2 separate regions of the Homo sapiens genome follow, and region 2 is linked to region 1. A link means that fine-mapping ties the variant in region 1 to the expression of a gene that starts in the linked region. Tissue or cell type: whole blood. Region 1 holds a variant in brackets; the other region holds the start of a gene. All regions are shown on one strand. Distances are from middle to middle. Region 1 overlaps LOC100507006 (a long non-coding RNA gene). Region 2 holds the start of PELI1 (pellino E3 ubiquitin protein ligase 1).

Evidence for each region. PIP is the estimated chance that this variant, and not a neighbour inherited with it, causes the effect.
Region 2: it holds the start of PELI1, and the variant in region 1 is the best candidate, but not a certain one, in a credible set for the expression of PELI1 in whole blood (Lepik 2017, PIP 0.53).

Annotation. Positions count from the first base shown.
Region 1 is chr2:64,229,585-64,233,978 of GRCh38, forward strand. LOC100507006 (a long non-coding RNA gene) reads left to right here. Exons shown (of 5, transcript NR_120420.1): 2 at 1-56. Among named protein-coding and RNA genes, the nearest start is that of LINC00309, 26 kb to the left of the region's middle. The variant T/C (reference allele first, on the strand shown) is at 2,779.
Region 2 is chr2:64,141,749-64,146,142 of GRCh38, forward strand. PELI1 (pellino E3 ubiquitin protein ligase 1) reads right to left here and starts at 2,672. Exons shown (of 7, transcript NM_020651.4): 1 at 2,333-2,672. RefSeq lists silencers at 2,120-2,189, 2,200-2,269, 2,410-2,479, 2,560-2,749, 2,840-2,899.

The DNA of each region.
Region 1 (4,394 bases):
AGAACCCGCACCCATCAAAATCAAGAAGAAAGGCTGAACCCGGAGAGAAAAGGGAGGTGAGCCTGCGGAGGGAGATGGGATGCAGCGGAGGGAATTGGGGTGCAGCGGAGGGAATTGGGGTGCAGCGGAGGGAATTGGGGTGCAGCGGAGGGAATTGGGATGCAGCTGAGAGGGGAGCGCCAGTGGGGAGGTTTTGGGAGCCAAGCCATTAGAGGAAGGATCACACAATGTCCAGAGGTAATGAACACAGAACTTTTTAGTTTGTTTTTAGGTCAGAGTCTCATATCCTGGTCTGCACTCGATGGATTCTTAAAGCAATTGGAACCTCAGGCTGGTCCTGGAGCAAGAGCTGGTCCTTTACTTGGGGCTCTCAGGTTGAGAAGTTTGAGCTCTAGGATTCTCCACTGACCACCTCTCCCTGTCTTTGCTCACTTCCCATCTTTAAACTCCCATTGAACTGGCATGCTATTCTTAGCATGGCACTCAGGCTCTTGACTCCACCCAGTCCTTCTAGTTATATTGGCCATGGTACCTACGTTCTTGTGTCTCCTAGCACTGTCTACCTACCCTCTCTCCACAACACATATTACACCCCCAATCCAACCCATAATTCCCATTGGTTTCCAGGTATGCCAGTCTTCTTACGGTTTCCTAAACATGTCATAGTAGGGAAAATGCTACATGTTCACTACCTCATTTCACCTTCCTAGGCAGATGAGAAGACATCTCCCAGTTTCTTTTTGCAGCTAGGTTGGGACACTGACCAAATTTTTGACAACAAAAAAGTGAGTGGAGGGATATGGCATTCTGGTTCAGGAAGACTAAGAGGGGGTCTGAGTTCTTCATGCTTATTCTCTTTTGTCCATATGCTAGGATGTGCAAAACTCTAACTCAGTGGGTTGTAAAATGGAAGCAGGCTGGGTCCTGAATTTCTGTTGCAGGAAAGCTGACCAATTGGCATAAGACATATATATATATTTTTTTAATGAGCAAAAGCCACTGAGATTATGGGGTTTTATTTGTTACCTCAGCCTGTCCTATTCTATCCTAACAGCACACATACCATGCTTTTTCTTATTTTGGCATCTCTATAGTTACATTATGTCACTTGGAATGCCTCCCTGCATTCCTACCCTGCAGCAAATTGCTACTATCCTTGGATTCTCCTCTGTGATCTTATAGCACCATGCTCAGGTTTCTGGCCTGAGTGATTAGATGAATCTTGGCACCAGTAAGGAAAAAGAAAGGGAGGAAGAGGTGTACATTTGGCAGAGAGAAAGAACTCTGTATGTGCACTATGTGTTTGAGAATGGGACATCCAGGGATATATGGATCTGAAGCTCAAGAGAGAGGTCTGAGCTAGAGATAGGTAGAGGGTTGAGAGTCATGAGCATAGGGGAAGAAGTGGGCAAGATTACCCAGCGAAAGTATGTAAATTAAGATAAGAGAGTGGAAGATGGAAAGGTGAATCTTAGTGGAACACCATCCTTTAAAGGAAGGCAGAAGAAGCAGAGCCCTTATAAATTTCACAGAGTCCCCCTAAGGACATTCAGAATTGAGCGTGAAACCTGGGAAAGCAGAACTAGTTTATTGATCAACATTTACAAATGTGAAACTTAATTTTGAGGAAAACAGGGTATACTGCAATTGAAGCTGTTGAGTAGACCCAAAAATGCCTTTGAAGGTGGAATTGCTCACCTTTGTTACTGAGAAAACTCCCGGGCAAAAGTTTAGTTTTGATCATGTTAAAGGTAAATTAAAAGCTGACCTTGGCTTTTATATTCCTGGCTTTCCTCAACCTGAAGTCTTCTGACTTCTCTGAACCTAAAGGAATGAGAAAGTTGCAAGGATTTGTAACCGGCTATTGGAATTAATTGTGCTCACTAGCCTATATTTTGTTTTGCTTTTTTCTCCATGTGTTTGCTTTTTGGATGTAATTCTTAAATTGTCTAAATGGTCACCTTTTGTTGTTGTTATTCTTTAAATGGTACCTGGACAGCTATGATGGGTCAAGAGAGAGAATTGCTTTATACTACAAGGCTATCAGAAGATCACTGAGGTTGTAGTGAGCCGATATCGCTCCACTGCACTCCAGCCTGGGCGACAGTGAGACTGTCGTGAGGAAGGGAATGTGATAATCCAAGAGAGAGATGACAATGGATTGGAACACAGTGGCAGCAGTGGAGGTAGTGAGAAGTGGTTGGATGCAGGATATATTTTGAAGAGGAAGCCAATAAGATTCGGATGTGAGAAAAGAAAAAAAAGTAAGAGGAGTCCAGAAGGACTCTAAAGGTTTTGAATAGAGTCACCATCGACTGAGAGAGTGCAGACTGGGAGTGGAGCTGGCTTCAAAGGGAAGAACAGAAGTCCAAGTTTGGACTTGTTAAGTTTGATACATGAAGCAGGCATCTGGATAAAGGTCTGGAGTTCAAACGGGCGTGGTGGCTCACACTTGTAATCCCAGCACTTTGGGAGGCCGAGGCAGGCAGATCACTTGAGGCCAGGAGTTCGAGACCAGCTGGCCAACATGGCGAAACCCCGTCTCTACTAAAAATACAAAAATTAGCTGGGCGTGGTGGCAGGTGCCTGTAATTCCAGCTACTTGGGAGGCTGAGGCAGGAGAATCACTTGAACATTGGAGGCAGAGGTTGCAGTGAGCCGAGATTGTGCCACTGCACTCCAGCCTGGGTGACAGTGTGGGACTCCATCTCAAAAAAAAAAAAAAAAAAAAAAAAGAGGTCTGGAGTTCAGGAGAGAAGTCTGAGCTGGAGGTGCACA[T/C]TTGGCAGCTTCTGGTGATATTTAATGATTTAATGCTATGAAACCAGGTGAGATCACCAAGAGGGTGAATAAGGAAGAAAAGGTGCCCGAGGGCTGAGCCCTGGGGCCCTCCAAGATTATGAGGTCAGAGAGAAAAGGCTGGACCAGGGAAGCAGTCTAAGAAGGAATGCCTAGTGAATAGGAGGAAAATGAAGAAAGGGTTTGTGCTGGAAGCCAAGTAAAGAAACAAATTCAGAGGAAAGGGAGTCATCACTGTGTCGGATGCTACTGACACACACCTCAGATGTGACCTGAGAACTGAGAAATGGACTTAGAAAAGCGTAGGTCAAGCCGGGCAAGGTGGCTCACACCTGGAATCCCAGCCCTTTGGGAGGCCAAGGTGGGCAGACTGCTTGAGGCCAGGAGTTCAAGACCAGCCTGGCCAACATGGCAAAACCCCATCTCTACAAAAGCATACAAAAATTAGCTGGACGTCTTGGCGTGACAAAAATTAGCTGGACTTCTTGGCGTGCGCCTGTAATCTCAGCTTCTTGGGAGGCTGAGGCAAGAGAATCGCTTGAACCTGGGAAGTGGAGGTGGAAGTGAGCTGAGATTGTACCACTGCACTCCAGCCTGGGCGACAGATTGAGACTCCATCTCAATAATAATAATAATAACAATAACAATAACTGAGGTTCTTATAACACTAATATTATTCAACATCTACAGTCTCAGAGATTCTAGGTCCAGATCGTTGGACTGTCTCTCATTCAGAAGTATAACTCCTTTGAAATAAGGTCCTTGTGAAAAAGGGATGGTTTCTCTTTGATATGGAGATACGGATGTTGTCAACTATTACAGTCTCATATAAAATGCCAATGCACTGTGCTGGTTTAATGTAGTTTTTAGTTGGAAAGTGAGAATCCCCAAATGCATTTTTGGTAGCCAGCTCTGTTGCAAATGATGCCACTGGATGTAGCATTAAGTAACTTAACTCTTAAACTTTGGGCATATTCAAGTGCATAGTACATCTGCCCTCAATCTTGGGAGTCTGTCGTAAAATGCAGTCACAGGGTATATGATATACCACTCTCCAGTATGTGGTGTATTTGCTGAATATTATGTATCAGAAGCTCAGAGAGAGAAAGAAAGAGAGAGAGAGCAGACAATTTAGAAAGCCCAGCCTGCTCTGCGTCAAGGGCACTGCTCCAGAGTTAAATCTGCTTGTGAGCTACCAAACAGCATTTTTCTCATACTGAAAAAAACTATCCTTGTAATCTGCAGTTTGAATGACCTGTTCCTGTGTTTATTCATTACTTTAGATCATCAAGTCAGTGGAAACTTTACACGACCTCTGACTGATGCTCTGCTGTTCCTAGTGGAATCATTGTCATAACTAGCATTTTGTTTGTGGCTTTGTACCTGAGTGCCCATTTTGGACCACTCATGATGTTAGGGGCTTATATCACATCTTTACTTTGCACATCAACTCTATGAGACAGTCATTATCATTTTCATTTTAGAGGCGAGGAAACTGAGTCTTGAAGAGGTTAAGTTGCTTCAGGTCATGGCTGGTGAGTAATAGAGCTAGATTCAAAGCCAGGACTGCCTGCTTCCAGAGCTCATGCCCTTCCTTG
Region 2 (4,394 bases), 88 kb before region 1:
TGGCAGTACTAGACTAACTTCCTACCCCGTACTTTTCAGTCATTTCCTTTAAGGGGTCTCAAAGAAATTATGAAACCTGCAAAGCCAGACTTTGCCAGTCAACACTAACTTCTGCCTGTGGATTCCAGTGACTGAGCCAAGACAGTGTTAGTAGCTTCCTTGAAGTACAAATGTTCCTGGTAAATCTGGCTTGAAAATACCACAGAAAAAGTTCAACATAACCAACTGTAAGAACATTTAAATGCCAATCTTAAGGAAAGAATGGATTCCCTCCCCCTACAAATTCCACTGAGGCAAATTTCCAGCTTACTTTTTAGAAGCAAATAAATACTACTACTATTACATTACAGCACTTCTACCATGCTAATAAAAAGCTAGGTGATAGTTTCCTCTTTAAAACCTGTACATTCACTACATGAGACACTATAACCACTTCACTACATGCAACTTTCCATACATATAACTGTTCTACTTTCCAATTATTTATTTTAAACTCAAGATCTCTTTTAACATACTATAGAAAGGGAACAGGTTAGAAGGCTTTGGGAAAAAAAATAAAATAACGAACATCTCACTTTCATTTTCTGATGCAACCACCAAAATCTAAAATGTAAGGACAACTATATAGTACAAAATTAAATTTAAGAGAATTTAGAGTAAGTGAAACTATTCACTATTACTACAGTTCTGATTATTATTTACCTGAGGAAAGAGCTAGTAGAAGTGATGCTTGGTTTAAATTTTTGGTGCTTTCCAGTATGGTACCGAAGAAATAAAAACTCACAAAATAAATAAGGTCCTCAGAGTTAAAGACTTTTCCCCAGAAGAGGTTGTTGGTATAAATAAAAAAAACAAGGAATTCATATGCTGTATTTGTACACTAAGAACAATGTTTTGAGACATGTAAATCTTATCACTCAGAAAATATTTTGTTGGCTATAAAGAAAACGCATCGTAAACTGAAACAGAACTGAATAAAGTGAACCTTTACCACAATTAAAATATTTTAAATTCACCCTATTATGAAAACTTAATAATAAATTCATTTATCCTTAAGTGTAAGAGTAATACATATTCGACACAGTAAAGGACAATGCCATTTCTGAAACAAAAGATCATGTGCAATGAAAACAAAGTAACATTTTGCAGAGTAAGAAAAAGTAAAGAGCCTGTGAACCGAAACAGATGACCTTTTCTTATATATAAAGCTTCAGTTTTTAGCACAACCAGCACCTTATGAATAAAGTTCTCAATAACATTTGTTGATATACTGTTTGATGACTAAACGACAGGAATATTGTTGGTGCTGTTAAAACCAAGGCACATTTCCTTGTGTGTAGTGATTAAAATCTGTTAAATGTACATTTTTAAAAAACCTCTGCCCTCTGTCCCCTTCTTGCTCTCTTGCCTCTAACAGACCTGCACGTACAAAAATAAAAGTAGATGGTGACGTGAGTTTATGATTTACATTAATTTCCCTACTCGGAGCATTTTTCACTAAGTCTTTAGAGGTTTTAAGATTCAAACACTATGTAAGAAGAATTATGGTTTGAACTACGTAACAATTACCTAGACATCTTTTGGACTTCAGTTAACCTGTAAGTAAAATGAGCATCTTTAACTTTTCCACGGGGCTTTGGAGAACGGGTTCTTCCTCATAAACGCTTTCATATACTCAGACACGAGGCGCGGTAGAAGATCAAGCGTATCCATCAATTTGAGAGCTTTTCACGACCTCAGTTTACCCACTTAGGGAAACGGGCGTATTAACTTGTTTCCTAGGGGACCCGGGGGTGAAATTAATTAGCGTGTTTAAAATGCTCTGAGATCCAAAGATGAAAGGAAATGTGAAAGACGCGCAGAGATGATGACAACAATCATAACAATAAAAAGAATGACTAACTTGAAGTCTGCGTTATGTAAGGGAGGAAAAGAAGTTATCAGATCCGCACAAACAAAAGGGAAACCCACCGCCCCTTTTGTTTCTCCCATTTCCCTCTCCTCCCCGCCACCCGCAGAGCTCCCCTCTCGCAGCCGGAGCGCGCGGCCAGCCAGGCGCGGGGCTCGGAGTTGGCCGCCGCGCGCCCCGCTCCCGGGCGGAGGGGGAGGCCGCGTAGGGCCGGTTCCTGACAAAGGCGCTTCCTCGAGCCAGGGCGCGGGATGCAGGCGCCGCAAACTCCGCTCCCCGCCGCAGCGGGGGCGCGCAGGCGGGCGGGGAGAGCCGGCTGCTGGCCGCCGGGGAAGCCGCCGAGGAAGTTGCGCGCCCGCCCTCCCCGCGCCCCTCGGCGGCCCCGCCGCCATCCATCCCGCGGCGCCCCGCGGTCACACTTACCGGACAATTGCTGGTGGCCGGGATCCCAGAGCGGCCCCCGAGACCCGAGGCGAGAGGGTGAAGTGTTGTGCGCGGGGAGCGCGAGCAGACAGCCCGCCGTTCCGCCGCTGCCCTCCGCGCCCGCCAGCCGAGCCCAGCGAGGGGAAGTTGACCACGGAGCCGAGCGCTGAGGAGCCGCGGACGCAGGGAGAGGCGTTGGGGCTGCTTTGTGGTGCGCTCCCGGAGGGCTGGGGACCAATTCGACCGCACCGCGGGACTAGGGCTGCTGCCGCTGCTGCTAGTGGAGGCGGCGGCGGCGCCCCCCGACGGTCCCTCCGCCTCACACCGCCTCTGGGTCACTGACATACACTCGCAAGGAGGGGAGGGGTCTAGCCGGGGGGCGGGGCCTGAGGGAGGGGACCGGGCAGGGCCACAGCGGAAGGCGGTGTCGCCGCACCGAGAAGGCTCTTGGGAATTGTAGTTCTCCGGTTGAAGAAAAAAGGGATTCATTGTTGTCCAGCACCCTACCAGGCTCGCTCTGCACTGAGCATGCTCGAGGGCGAGGTTTGGACCGCCCCCTCCCACCGTTACCATGGTCACCGACACACTTAGCGAACGTGTTCAGTGCTGCTGTTGGCTGAACAAGGACGGTCTTGTATTATGGTGTTGTTGGGGATCCAACCCTTAGACGGTCCTTCCTACTTTTCTCCACCTCCAACTCCTAGCCTTACCAGTCATAAGTACCCAGTGAGGTCTGACTTTCTCTCCATATTTCAGTCTTCCCTGCTGCGTAATTTATCTTCCACAAACCCTAAATCACAAATACCTCTGTCCCTCACTTCCCTCAATTGAATCTTCTCCGGCTAAATTCAATTTTCTTTACCTAAGACTTGTCGAAATGTAGTTGTTTCCAGTAATTGAACAATTAGGTTATAAAACTTAGGAATATCACCACTATCAAAGTCCCGTAATTAATTACTTTGCTCAGTTAGTCACATCTAACTTTAAGATTAGCAAAGGCAAAGTACAGAATTAAGACCCCTATATTTTACTTGATTACTATAAAAGAATCCGGGTTCGTTCATTTTAAGGCCTACAATTTTTAAGACATACAAATTTCATAAAGTATACGTTCAAAAGACAAGTTGAAAATTGTTTATGTGTATTGGCCAACTTTAGTTTGGTAATAAGAGAAGTCTGAACCAAGGTATGAGTATGTTGTTGGGCTGGTCAGCTAAGTCTACACCCATCTTGGGCACCCAGGTGTGGAAAGGTGGTAGGGAGGAGGGTGGAGAAAGGCAGGACACATTACTGGCTCTCCGGAGAGCTAAAGGCAACGCGTCCTGAGCGCTTTTGTTTTCCTTCTCCACCTACCTAGAACCCCACACCCTGGAAGAAAAAGATTAATGCTTAGGAATCAGACACACTTTTGGAGCAAGGCTTTCAGAGAGTCTCAAGATCAGAAATCCTTATATCTACAGACTATATAATTATACACTCATTCAAAAAATGCTTGTTGAGTGTCTACTTGTGCTAGGCACTGTTTTGAGCCCCAGAAATAGAGATACAAAAATGTAAAAGAAACATTCTTATTTTCAGAGTGCTTACTATGCAAAGGAGGAGACAGGTAAATAGACTTAATTTGAGAAGTACTACAATAGGAAAATGCAAAGCTACCCACAGATGTGGGCAAAATCAGGAAATGCTTCAAAGATCACTTGAGATAACTAGGAATTAACATGTTTGTGTATTTTGGTAGGGGAGGAGGAAGAGAGAGGTGGGTGAGAGCATTGGGGGTGGTGTTGGGGAGAGCATCAAGCACAAATACCTAAAGGTGTGAGACCCAAACGTATTTTGGTTCAGCAAATAGTTGCATTGCTGGCAGTAGAATGGAGTTGGGGGAGTGGCAAGAGGAGACACTGAAAAAGGTAAGGGAGACAGCTTAGGTAATGAAGAATCTTGCACAATATGCTAAGGAACATGAACCTTTTCCTGGAAACAATGGGAAGCCACACAAGGATTGTAAGCAGATGGAATTTTGATAAGATAGGCATTTTAGAAAGATCACTCTATGGAGTGTGGT